Linked DNA regions of Homo sapiens. The protein of the gene in region 1 binds, or shares a complex with, the protein of each later gene. Each region holds a gene or a part of one and is shown on either strand. Other genes may lie near its edges.

Region 1 (7,029 bases):
ACTTTAAAATACTTTCTTGAGTGGTCTCTTCATTATAATAAATGTCTTTATAAATGGTTAGGATTTCATGGTAACTAAAATTGGTGGGTCAGTTTTAAGTTGTATTTATGCAGTTGAGGATTTTTAATCTATTAATTAAACAACTGTTTGAATTTACTTAAAAAAAAAAACTCAGTCAAGATGCTGTGCATTTTGCTAAAGCTGGGCTGGAGAAGTGGGGAGAGATACAAAGATGAGTATAAATGAAGGTTTTCTTTTAGCCTGTCAGAAAAGAGTAACTCTACTGATTGGTTGATTTTGATAGTTATCGGTAGTGTAGTTTTCCTTAGTTTCCTACTAGAACCCAAAGGGTGGCTGATGTCTTAAAAGTCCTAATCTTGTGGCCAGAAATTTATGAGCTTTTATTTACTCTTGGTCATCACTTTGTAATACATGAGAGTATACTCATTATACATTATACCACAATTTCTGTAACTTGGTTTTTGTCACCCCCGCCTTTTTTTTTTTTTTTTTTTTTTAAGAGACGTAGTCTTGCTTTGTTGCCCAGGCTGGAGTGCAGTAGCGTGATCTTGGCTTACTGCAGCCTCTGCCTCCCAGGTTCAAGCAATTCTCCTGCCTCAGCCTCCTGAGTAGCTGGGATTATAGGTGCCTGCCACCACATTTGGCTGGTTTTTATATTTTTAGTAGAGATGGGGTTTTACCATGTTGGTTAGGCTCTTCTTGAACTCCTGATGTCAAGTGATCCTCCCGCCTCAACCCCCCGAAGTGGTTGGGATTACAGGTGTGAGCCACTGTGCCCGGCGACATTTTTGACATTTTTTAAATGACATTTTTGATCAGGATTGTTTTTCATGTTACTTCCATCTTAAAGGCACTTCGCTGTCTAAGCTTCAATTCTTAGTTCTGCTTTTAAGTAGCTTTTTTTATTCCACACAAAAAGCAGAGGCTACTGAATATACAGCCTTCTTGGTGAGGATTATAAAGGGCTTTAGTTTGGGTGGTGATGTCTGTAGTAAGAATAAAAAGTTAAAATAAAAGGTAGCTGATGGTGGTGGTGTATACAGAGATTAGTAGGGTTTCTAAGAAAGAATAATAAAAATTTGTGAAATTGTTTCTATTTTTCTGATTTTTTTCAAAAAAGATAATTGTATTCATGGATTACTTGTGTAACTATTGTTACAATTTTTAAAAATAAAAGAATGATAATTAGGCATGATGAAGATTAAATCTTTTTTTTTTTTTTTTTTTTTGAGATGGAGTTTTTCTCTGTCACCCAGGCTAGAGTGCAGTGGTGCGATCTCGGCTCACTGCAACCCCTGCCTCCTGGATTCAAGCAATTCTTCTGCCTCAGCCTCCTGAGTAGCTGGGATTACAGTAGCCACCATGCCTGGCTAATTTTTTTGTACTTTTAGTAGAGACAGGTTTTCACCATCTTGGCCAGGCTGGTCTCGAACTCCTGACCTTGTGGTGCACCTGCCTCGGCCTCCCAAAGTGTTGGGATTACAGGTGTGAGCCACTGTGCCCGGCTGAAGATTAGATCTTTATGACTAATTGGATTTTTGGGTAAGGGATTCAGAACTTGATAGATGCTTCTTGACTTAAAGTGGGGCTATGTCATAAGTCAAATGAGTTTAATTCTCAGATAAACTCATCCTAAAGTTGAAAAATTGTAAGTTGGGCCACCTGTAATTGGGGACCATCTGTAATTGGGAGAATGCTAGTGACATTGAAATAATTAGTTATCAGTTAGACATAAATATGTACCTTTTGAAAATTTCCCATAGAAAATTTGAGTCATTATTGAAAATACATTTTCAAATTCTTTTGATTCATCAATAAGTTTGTTTGCAAAAGTTAATGACAGTGGCATAGAATTGAGTTTGTAGACCAAATTACATGGCATAGATATGTATTTAGACGAATATGACCTGAAAATGGCCCTTTTCTGACCTAATGGTGGGAATCAACTCTTGTTTGATGTTTCTTAAAAGATTCTACTTTATTAATTCTGCTTGTTTTAGTTACATCCAGAGCATTCCAGTTGTTAATGAAGAACACAGAGGTGATTTTTCCTATATTGGAAATTTGATGACAAAAGAATTCATAGGTCAACAATTGATTCTAATTATTAAGTCTTTGGATACCAGTGAAGAAGGAGGAAGGTATGTCTAAATGTTAACACTCATTCTAATTTGCCCTTCTAATTTCTTATATTGAAATATAGTCCTTTTACAATATAACTAAACATATTTACCCTAGCTCTCTAAAGTGGTATAAAAAGTTTTCTTTTCCCTTCTACATATTTCCATATATACACATACATTTATATTTCTAGTTCAATTTCCTCAGAATAAATCAATGAAATTGCAGTTTTTGGTTAAAAGTTTCTGTTTAGATTTATTAAGGCTAGTAGCATTTTCTAAAAGGTTTAATCATTTCTGGTATTTTGTCATTTTATCATGTTGATTTATTAAAAATCATAGGGTGTTTTATAAAAATTTTTTTTTGTGTGGAATAAGAATATTTGACCTAAAGTCTGTACATACAGATTTTTGTACCTATTATAGTGATAAACCTAAGTGAAAGAACTGAGGCAAATGTAATTAAGTTTGCAGAGTAGGTGAATGTTAGAGATAAAACATGTTTTGTCATAATAATATTTAAATTAGTTCTTTTTGACTGCAGAAAAAAACTGCTGGCTGTTTTACAGGAGATTCTTATTTTACCCACAATCCCAATATCCCTGGTTTCTTTTCTTGTTGAAAGACTACTCCACATCATTATAGATGATAATAAGAGAACACAAATTGTAAGTAATTTTCCTCATTGTTGATAAAGAGGTTTTGGTCAATGACATTGAATACTGTCTTATTTTCTGTTTAGAACTTTTTGTTTTGTCTGTTTTGTTTTAGGTTCGTCTCTTTAATGAGTTTTAAAATTTCTTAAAACCATTATCTATCTCTTACATACACAGAATATTTGAAAAATGTCACCTTCTTCCTCTTAGTGTACCTGTTATTGTTGAATCAGTTTGAAATGGAGCAGGTTTGGTAGGAAGTTACAAGTGGGGATATGGTTTTGTCCATGAGGCACTGGGTGCTAGTGTTTTTGAGAGCTTACTCAAATTGTACATACTAGGGTTTAGAATCTCATCTGACACTTTCTGGCTTTGTGGCTTTGGACAAGTTATTCTGCTGTTTTACTTGTCTGCAAATAAGAATAGCAATGAAATCTACCTTTCATTTTTCAATGAGGTATTGTTCATAAAGGTATTGTTCTGTATTGCTTGATAAATACAGAAATAATTGTTTACTATAATACTATTTCAGTGTTATTTTTTTCTGGCATAGCCAAAAAAGACAGATCTGTATCATTTATTTCATAAAAATCACATAATTTCAGTTGCAGGTTAATTCACAGATCATCTCTTCCATCCTCTCCTTATATATACACCCCTTCTACAACATGCTTAGTTGTTATTCAGCATCTGCTTAAATACTTTCATTTGGGAGGCAGCCTTTTCCTGATCAGCCAATTCCAATATACAAGTGGTTCTGAAAGGAAAGTCCTTCCTTATGCTATTATTATTTATGCATTGTCTACCCAAAGGAAGAATAAAAGGATATTCCATTTTTCTGTGTTTAACTCCTACAGAGCTGAACAAGAGAAGGGTTGAGGATTTTAGGCAGAGAATTTAAGTGTCTCATCTTAAGCACCATAATTCATATTTCTGTTTTTCAAACATTATATGAGGGATAATTTACTTTCACTGTCTGTGTGCCTATTTCCCTTCCATTCAAATAATTTCATTTTGTAGTCAGATATATTGTTTTGTTTTGTTTTTTTCTAAAATTGTCTAGCAAACAGAATGTGTGCTATTTCTACCAGTATGTTTTTGCTCCATTATTCAATATATGGTGGATACTACTTGGAGTTTTATATAGAATTTTGATACTATTTGCTGATATATCAAACATATATTAAAGCATGTACTCTGAACTTACAGGTTACAGAAATTATCTCAGAGATTCGGGCGCCCATTGTTACTGTTGGTGTTAATAACGATCCAGCTGATGTAAGAAAGAAAGAACTCAAGGTAAGTCTCTTTTAAATGAAAGAAGTGCTTGAGTGTAATGTAGCTGGGCAAGTCTATTCTTTCCTCTTGCTGTGCAGTTCTGAAATGTTTCTCACATAATCAAATTATTGTTTAATTGTTAAACTATAAGAATATTTAAAATGTTACCACATATGTCAGTCTCAGAGATATGCAGATCTCTGTGTCAGGAAAACTACAAGTTTGCATATGCCTGACTCATTAAATTCTGGGCAGTTGAGATATTAAATAATACTCCTGAGTTGCTACAGATATTCATATTAACAGTTTTTGTTCAGTGTTGAAACAATTTATATCTTCCCTTAGATGGCTGAAATAAAAGTTAAGCTTATCGAAGCCAAAGAAGCTTTGGAAAATTGCATTACCTTACAGGATTTTAATCGGGCATCAGAATTAAAAGAAGAAATAAAAGCATTAGAAGATGCCAGAATAAACCTTTTGAAAGAGACAGAGCAACTTGAAATTAAAGAAGTCCACATAGAGAAGGTACAGGTAACTTTTTTCATACTAAATCTCAGGTGTTATTAATCATCTCAACTAAATCTTATTTTCTCTAACTTCTAGAATTGCCAAAATATATTTACTTTGAGCACTTTGTAATAGTGACATGAATTAAAATGAAAAAAGTTTTTCCCTGTTTCTATTTTTGGACTTTGAAAGGCCTTAATTAACTTTAATTATTGGAGGTAGGACTTTATTTGCTTCCTTGTCATGCTAATCTCTAGAATCCGAAGTCTTTCTTACCAGGGAAGCTAGCTTTCCAGTGGTTCACATCTGAGTTTTCTGTTTTTTGTCTTGAATGGTTTAAAAAAGGAAAATACATCCATTTTCCTCTTATTTGTGGAGGATCAATGACCTTTCTTTTTTATTGCTAGCAAAATAATTTCTATGGTAACGTGCATTTTTTTAAAGCTAAATTACTTTTGTGTTTTTAGAAAAAGCTACGCAGCTTTGTTATTTTTAATGAAATACTGAAATATGTCTAGTAACATTTAAAGCTTGCTTTTCAGTAGTTCGTTTTTTAAAAAATTAGTTTGTTAAAGTACTCTCTTAAATGGAGTATGTCTTTCCTTCTGAAAGAAATTTTTTGTTAATGGTATCGATACCATTCTGTCTTACAACAAATGATAAATATGTAAACATAAGATAGGTATCAATTAATATTTGATATTAACTTTAATTTCTTTTGGGATCTTGCCTTTTGTAATGAACATCATTTATTGTTGTACTTTTGGGATGTGCTGATTATTCTCATAAAAAGAATGCTAAATAGGAGACTCTTTTATATAGGAGAGTTTCATGAGTTATGTTTCTGATCTCTTTAGCCATAGACATCCCAACTCCAACACCCACCTTCCCAGAGTGTATGCCTGAATTTTATTTTGATAGCTGGTGGCTTCTTTTATTTGACGAAGTCTGTGGGCCATTATAGGCTATTAAATTTGGAAAGCAAATTTAAAGCAAAAACTGAAAATATCATCTGAAAAATGACAAACTTTAGGTCAAAATTATAAAATTAGCAAAAGTAGTCTATCATGGTTAATATCGTCTGTTTAACTTGACTTGCTTTGACCATTTATGTGTCTATTTGTCCTGTTCGAGGGCTACAAATCTGTTAAAATGCAACTACAACAGAGCATAATAAATGCTATGGTCAGGGAAGTATAGAGGTTTTATGGAGAGGTTTCTAGTGCTGGTAGAGTATTGTTGGCTTCCCCAGAGGAAGACATGTTTTATCCTGAGATTAGAATAAAAATAACAATATAATCTAACAGTCAGAGGATACTTTTTCTGTGGTAGTCACAGCATTAATTACTTCACAAATGTGAATTCATTCTTTTCTTCCTATAGGCCTATGAGGTTGGTACTATTATTATCTTCATTTTACAAAGGGCAAGTAACTTGCCCAAAATCACACAGATAGTAAATGGTGGAGGCAGGATTTAAACCCAAGAAGTGGCTCTAGACTTGTGCTTTTAACTCACTCTGTGCTGTCTCTCCTCAATGAATTATGGAAGGAATGTTGTAGACAGATGGAGCAACATCTGTGATGGTCCAGAAGTTAAAGAATGCCTATTATGTTTTAAAACTTCAGGTCCATGTGACTAGAGAATTGATGGGGAGAAGCAGGAGAAAAATCTGGGGAAAAATTAAGGGCTAGGTCATGTAAGGCTTTGCGTAAGCAATATTAAAAATTTTGTATTCTAAGGATTGTGGTGAACCACTAGTATTTTAAGTGGTTAGGTAAGTCTTATGTCTCAGATCACTGTTGTTTAGGAAATGGATTGGAGAGTAGTAAAAGCTTAGACAGGCATAATAGTTGGGAGACTTACAGTAGGGTTGGGAGACTTACAGATGATGGTAGTCTGAACAAGATAATGACAGTGGATTTGGAAAGTAGTGATGAACTTGAGAGGTATTTAGAAATTAGTAACGGAGAAAAGGGAGTCAGGAATGTATCTTAAGTCTTTTGGTTTAGACAACTGGGTAGATGGTGATGACAGTATGAAGATAGAGAACAAGGAAGAGGAGAGATTTGTGTAATGATGAGTTCCCTTTTGGACATGTTGAGTTTGAGGAAACTGTGGAACATCAAGAGGAAATGTCTTTTAGCAGTTATATATATGAATCTGAAACTTAGAAAATAGCTGGGCTAGCTCATAGATGATAAACGAGGTTGTCAGGTTTTTTTTTTTTTGAGGTGATAATTAGGCAAGATGAAGATTAGACTTTTTTTTTTTTTTTTTTGAGACAACGTCTCCCTCTGTTGCCCAGGCTGGAGTGCAGTGGCATGATCTCAGCTCACTGCAACCTCCACCTCCCGTGTTCAAGCCATTCTCGTGCCTCGGCCTCCCAAGTAGCTGGGACCACAGGTGTGCACCACCACACTAATTTTTGTGTTTTTAGTAGAGATG
Region 2 (7,029 bases), on another chromosome or scaffold:
TCCTCTTATCAAAGGCCACTTTTTTGGCATTATCCATATTGTCACAAACAAATGTTGTTCCAAAGACAAACTCCATTGCTTTCTGAAGTTCTGGTTTATATTCAACCAAGGAAAGAGCCACATGAACGTTGTCAGGGCCAACCTGTGGGACAACAACAGATATGCCACAGTACATACTACTACTTTTCCTTTCAGATATGATTTTATAAACCAGTAAAAACTGCTGTAATAGAAACTTAAATAATACTTACCTAGCATTAAAACTCTTTCTGAATTTTCTAAAAAGCTATGTAAAACTCAAAGTTTCAGGAAAAAAAAACTGCAGGTTTAAATACTGAAAGATTTATTGCTAAGTAAAATATTTATTAATAGCTAGTATGGAGCATTATGAAAGTTTCTATCAATAAGGAGCCATTACCATGTTTCTAAGTGTCCTTCACCAACGTTGACTGGACACAACTTTAATTATAGTACAGATTGAGTATCCTTTATCCTAAATGCTTAGAACAGAAGTGTTTGTTTTCAGATTTTGGTATATTTGTATTACAGTGGTTGAACTTTCTAAATCCAAAATACTCCAATGAGCATTTTTTGGGTGTCATAGTTTTGAATTTTGGAAAATTTCAGTTGTTGGACTTGGAGTGCTTAACCTATAATTTCCAGATCAACACAACTATATGAAAATGTTGTTTCAATAATCAGGAATTTGATTTCACAACAAATATTTTCTCATACAAATGAAACATGCTAGAGCAGTCGTCTGCCAGTTACAGAAATGAAAACACAATAACTGAGAGTAAAAGTAATTTAAAAAATCCCCAGTCCTCTATTTTGATCACAATGCTTCTTCTCAGCCTTTGTTTATAGAGGCTACCTCTGCCCATCATTTAAGAAAAACTAAGCATCTCTTTTAGAGCTTAGTATCAGCAGTGGCAGTCACAATGAAGGAAGCTCTATGTAACACATGTTCAGTATTGTTCTTTGATGTGGCAGCTACCATCAAATAGGTTTGGCTAAAGGATTTGAGGCAAAGTATTTTTGCTGTTACTTGAAATCCCAATTTCCTTCTAATGCTGGGACTCGATGTATGGCTGAATTAACTTCCTGAGCCTTCTTGACTTAATGGTGAGTTTTCAAGTAAAGAAAGTACCAACCAAAAACATCACCTTTCAATTACTCAGCACTCATCCTCCCTCTCCTGATAGTATACATATCAACACAACTGTATTTTGAAATCATTTGCATTGAAATCTTCTGAATGTAACTAAGGATACAACAACATCCACTTAGTTACAAGTATATTTTTAAGTTTCATAGAAATGTCTTTTCAACTGATGTACTTGGAATGTCTGATCAATAAAAAAACTGATATTACAGCTGAATGTTATGACTGACTTCATGTTTTTACAGTATTACACAACTACAATAACTTTTAAATGTATTTCCTTGTACTAATCTATTTTCTTACTAGCAAGCATGTCACTTTAGATCAACGTCAGCAGTTGAATGGGATCCTGGTCACCTGCTATGTACCTGCACAGGCTGAATAGCAATCTAGAAGAACTCTAATAAAGAAGCATCACTGCAATACTAATGAAGGCCTTCCATAATGGCTGTGACTGTGGGCAGTTTTAGTATGCCTGACATAAAAAGAAACAAAAACAAAAACTTGAAGAATTTGGGGTACGTATCTAGAAGCTCAGTTCTAACCATTCAGGAATCAAGAGTGTAATTTTCACCATCACCTGATTGATAGTCATGTGACTTAAGGTTAAAAAGGACATTCTAATACCACAAAGTGAAGCATCAAAAGGAGTTCAAGTCTTCCAACATCTCTATTCTCTTATCATCTAATTGCACAAGCCAACCCAATTTTTTTGTATTTTAATTTTGTGGTTCTGCATATGATTATGTCCCTCAAAATTAATGTCTTCTAACTTAAAAAAACCACAGATGACGATTAAACATATAAATAAGACAAAATGAGACTTACAAGATTCTGAGCAACTCTCAGAGTTTCTGGTGCAATACATCTGGCTGAAATTTTATTGAGTGGAATTATAGTGTATCGACGTTTCAGTTCCCCCCTTTCTAGTAGCTTTTTACCAGTAACCTACAACACACATTTGAATTTAAAAAACGCATGTTAAAAATGACAGAAAATTGAGAGAATGCAAGTTTAGTAGTCTATAATAAATGAATGTTTAGTGCCATTTATCCCAATCAAGTTATAATTACATATGCAATGGAACATCATTTGAACTTGAAAAAGGAGATGCTGCCATTTGGGACAACATGAATAAACCCAGAGGACATGATGCTAAGTGACATAATCAGACGAAGAAAAAATAAAAAACTGTATGACCTCACTTGTACATGGAATCTTTTAAAAAAAAAAGCTGAACAAATAAAAAGAGTAGGATAGTGGTTATCAGGGATGAGGAGTGAAAGAAAATGGGTAGAAGTAGGTCATAGGTCAAAGGGTACATATTTGCAGTTGGGTAGGATAAATAAATCTACCTATTCAGAGATGTAATGTATAGCATGAGGACTATAATTAATACTATATACTGAAAATTTGCTAAGAGTAAATTTTAGGTGCTGTCACACACAAAAAAGGTAACTATGGAAGGTGAATGGCTATGTTAATATGTCTGACTACAATAATCATTTCACTATGTATATGTATCAAAACATCTTGTACGTTTGTTTTTTTCTTTTTTTTTTTGAGATACAGTCTTCCTCTGTTGCCCAGGCAGGAGCGCAGTGGTGCAATCTCAGCTTACCGCAGCTTACCGCAACCTCCACTTCCCAAGTTCAAGCAATTCTTGTGCCTCAGCCTCCAGAGTCGCTAGGACTCCAGGCGCACGCCACTACGCCTGGGTAACTTTTGTATTTTCAGTAGAGATGGGGTTTTGCCACGTTGCTGAGGCTGGTCTCGAGCTCCTGGGCTCAAATGATCTGCCCACCTCAGCCTCCCAAAGTGCTGGGATTACAGGTGTGAGCCACCATACCCAGGCTTCTTGTACATTTTAAATATATATATAAAATAAATTAAAAAAAAAACAAGGAAGTAAATTTGACAATGACTACGTAGCATTTACAGGAAAGAATATGAGCATTCTACAGAAGGATAATAAGTGAGAACTGAAGAAATGTAAATAAATTCAATGTTACCTTGATGGGAAGACTGACATCAAAAACAGGTCATTTATTCCCAGATTATTTTACAAATTAAATTCAACTTATACAGCAAAGAGATCCCAAAAGTTTAAGATTGGTAATATGCATTCTGAGTTTCTGAGTAAGCATGAGACCTCCTTTGGAATAGTTATCAAAAAGTTATGAACCAAATAGTTTTACCCTATAAATAAGTCACCTTAGGGGAGAGCCTTAAAACATCAAAGTATTTAATTCTTTTAGCAGCACATGACTTTTCAAGCTAACCAAATTTTAAATTTTTTAAAATTAAAATCAACTTACTTCTGTGTCTACTACAACATTGTAGAGTCGTTCTCCAGCCACTAATTCTAAAGCTGTGGTTGCAGAAGTGTCTTTCACACTAATCAGAGAAGCCACAAGTCCTTTCACACAATTTCTATTCCAGTTCTTCTCTGGATCCCTGAAATACAAAAGTTGACAAAAATTAATCTTAGATAATAAAGTAGAAAAAGTTATACTTTACTCATCAGGAGCTCTTTTGGACAACACATTAAAGTGAAATGAAAGTAGAATCAGCAAAATGGTTTTAACAAACCAAAAATTTTAAAATGTCCCAAATGACTAGCCAGCTGTTGTTTTTAAATCACAATAGATCTTTCAGTATGTTTCAATGTAGTAAGAACAACTCTGATGTTCTAATCCCTATAATACATATGATTACTGTAAATATTCCATAAAAAACCCACATAGCAAAACAAATTATAAGATGTAAATGTGGATATTTAACATTAATGATACAGTAACTCTGAAGACATTTTGAACTGAGATTAAATTTCCCTCATTTTAAGATTAGTGGCATCATTAGCCATTAAATTTCACAAGAATTTCCCTGCCAACATTTAAAACATTTCAACAAATGTTTAAAGGAAAAATACCAATGAAAGAAAAGCAGCTTACAACAAGTTTCATACAAAAATCTTGGTTTCGACAAAATTTTCACACTGCTTCCAGCTTAAATAAAAATGTCTTGATTATTACTATGTTAAAATTCAAGGCTTAAGTCTCTTACTTGTATGCAAATCGAAGATTGGGAAATCTGGCTAATAGAGCTTCATATGTTTCTTTCAATCTACCAATATCACGAGACAGCTGCCTGCGCTTTTCCAAAAGGCTTTCCTCTTTATTTTCTGAAGGATAAATCATAATAAATTAAAACCAAGTTTTAAAAGCTCACTCTACTGTTTTAAGGAAAATATTAGCAACCACTATTTCCAAAGCATGCAAAAAATACAAATTTCTGTAAGTATTAAAAAAGCATGCTGAACCTTCCTATTTCTATCCACTGTCAAACAGACATTATTTCCAACGGCAAATAACACAATTTTCATTCCAAAAAATAACATACAAACTGAATGCCTAATGTAGAAATACACAAATGACATTTTTGAGCTTTCAAATGATTGAAGCAGGAAATTCTCAATACTGAGTTCTCAAAAATTCAAGAGTTGTTTTATAATTAGGTATTTTTTGACGATATTTACAACACTTCTTATACTAATGCTTGTTAATAGGCTAAGAAATGTTTCCTACTTGCTTGCGTTCTTTATTTAAATTAGCTTTTTATCAAAAATCACTACCTCCTCATGATCTGATTATCATGTTTTTAAAGGCAAACCTTCATAATTTAGCTTTTTCATTTCAGCTTCAAGTTTTTCTTTAAGTCTTTTTACAGCTTCTAGAGCTTCTTGATCCTTCCTGTAGCCACTATCCATCTTCTTAACTTCAGCTTGTTTATTCTTTAATTCCTGTTGAGCATGCTTCAACTTCATCTGAGCCTGTGGCAGAAAAATGCAACAGACCATAGGATGTATGAGGCAGACAGTGCTAGTAATTAAATGGCCGAAGATTCAGATTGGTTTTACTAAGAGACCTTAACCTTCAAAGTTTAATTGTTTGGTCTCTTGGATTAGTATTTCAACAAATTAGTCATTTCCCAGTATTTTCTCCTCAAAAAACTACTCAAAGTATAAACTAATATATGATTAATATGTAAAAGAATTTGAAATTTAAGTCCGTATTTTTAATAAAATATGACATATTCAAATTGAAGGATTATATCGAATAACTGTCAGTAGCTGGTAATTAAAAAAAGAACGCTAGAAATCACAACTCTCGTTCTTTTCCTTTCCGCTTAGTTGTTCATATTTGTATGTGTATATATTTGTGAGTGCTATCTAATAACAGTAAAGAAACTGAATTGAGCAATAAGACGTAAGATTATACAGGAAAAGAAGCTAAACTGACAGAGAAACTTAAATGCTGAGTCTGATAATTAAATGCTAGAACTATTTAAATTACATGTGTCAGGCCTTCAAGAATTTATACACTTGAACACTGCTTCTTAAAACTATGAACTAGTATTCTAAAACCTAGATGGGGTTTTAGATGGGGGTATCCTCCAAAACTGTATAATGATGTATTTTTCCCAGTTCCCTTATAAAATAATAGACAAACTGAGAGTAGAGTACTTTAAAGCTTTTCTACTATTGAGAGTTCTTATAAATTTGTGACTATCATCTGTCATGCCTGAATGAAAAAGTTGCAAATATATAAAGAGAAAAACCTGAGGATTAACGCATAATCACACACATTTGTGTACATGTTTTAAAATCTGTGTCTTCCATTAAAAACAAAACAATGATGTGCCTGTGTACATGTATTTTTTCTGCTAGCAAAATTCTTATGTTCATAGGACTGTAAGTTGCACTACTATGTAAAATCTGAGAAACATTATAATAGACTGACAAGACTTTTAAGATTATGAAATCAGAGTAGGGAGAGCAGACTAGAATGTGGCTACATGTGAGGTAGAGATACTTCCTAAAAAAATGTAAAGTTTGAGAAACAAGGTTTTAAGAACTAGGTATGGCAGGCAAAGCAATGGGGAGGACAATCCTGTTTTCCTGTTAAAGCTTAAGACTTCAACATTATGTTATCAATAAAAAATAAAAATAGCCAAAAAGAGACAAGAATAAATGCATTAATCTCGAAAATTCCACACAATGCTGCAAACAGAACAAAGCATTTATTGCACTTACATACCGAATTAAGATAATTTATGTAGTACAGCATCTTCACAAATTAACATCACCAATATTTAGCAATCAACATATTTGAATTTCGCTGCATTAGGCATTAGAGTTGCAGAATAAAGTAAACAAACAAGTTCCTTGAGACTGATTATTTTCAACATTATGTAACAATTGCCAAAGCATAACATGAAAAGAAACTTCTTGGAAAAAAAAGCAATCACATAGTGCTAATGTCTCTATTTACCTGTTTGGCTTCTGTCTGAGCTTTACTTATATCATTTTTACAGGCCATCATTTGACCAGCAAGAGTTGCTTCTGCTCCATCTTCATTACTGGACAGGCCAGCGGAAACAGCATTGAAGTGCTGCTGTGCAGCTGCCAGAGCTTCAGCATCTTTATTACTTGCTTCTTGAAGGGCATGCAGTCCATCTGTTATCTTTTTAACCTCTTTTTCCTTTGCTGCTAAAGTTTTTGAGTCCTTTAGGAAGAGTTTCAAATGGAAAAATATTATATTTCAGGAAAAACACCCACTTTCTTATACGCATACCCTTATGTAATAAAATTCCATAGCAATTTGGAGTGAGCATAATAAAATAATTTAACCATCATAACTTTATAAATACTGAATTATCATTTTGAAATTCACTCTCAGTTTTTAGAATAAATATAACTCTTATACTACTGGTTCATTCCATGTTATAAATTAAATCCATGAGACATTGGGCTAAATAATAATTGCAGATTTAAACAAATCACTTGAAGGGACTAAAAATGA

What was found. Proteins that work in one complex are often made in the same cells at the same time.
Region 2: NCAPG (region 1) and SMC2 share a complex: the UniProt entries of both Homo sapiens proteins name them as parts of the condensin complex.

What each region holds. Positions count from the first base shown.
Region 1 is NC_000004.12:17,820,962-17,827,990, forward strand, and holds part of NCAPG (condensin complex subunit 3), read left to right. Parts: intron 1-2,021; coding exon 2,022-2,162; intron 2,163-2,685; coding exon 2,686-2,809; intron 2,810-4,006; coding exon 4,007-4,096; intron 4,097-4,420; coding exon 4,421-4,600; coding exon of another isoform or gene 4,601-4,606; intron 4,607-7,029. UniProt on the Homo sapiens protein: Regulatory subunit of the condensin complex, a complex required for conversion of interphase chromatin into mitotic-like condense chromosomes.
Region 2 is NC_000009.12:104,111,284-104,118,312, reverse strand, and holds part of SMC2 (structural maintenance of chromosomes protein 2), read right to left. Parts: intron 6,733-7,029; coding exon 6,499-6,732; intron 4,998-6,498; coding exon 4,838-4,997; intron 4,350-4,837; coding exon 4,232-4,349; intron 3,623-4,231; coding exon 3,484-3,622; intron 2,114-3,483; coding exon 1,994-2,113; intron 143-1,993; coding exon 1-142. UniProt on the Homo sapiens protein: Central component of the condensin complex, a complex required for conversion of interphase chromatin into mitotic-like condense chromosomes.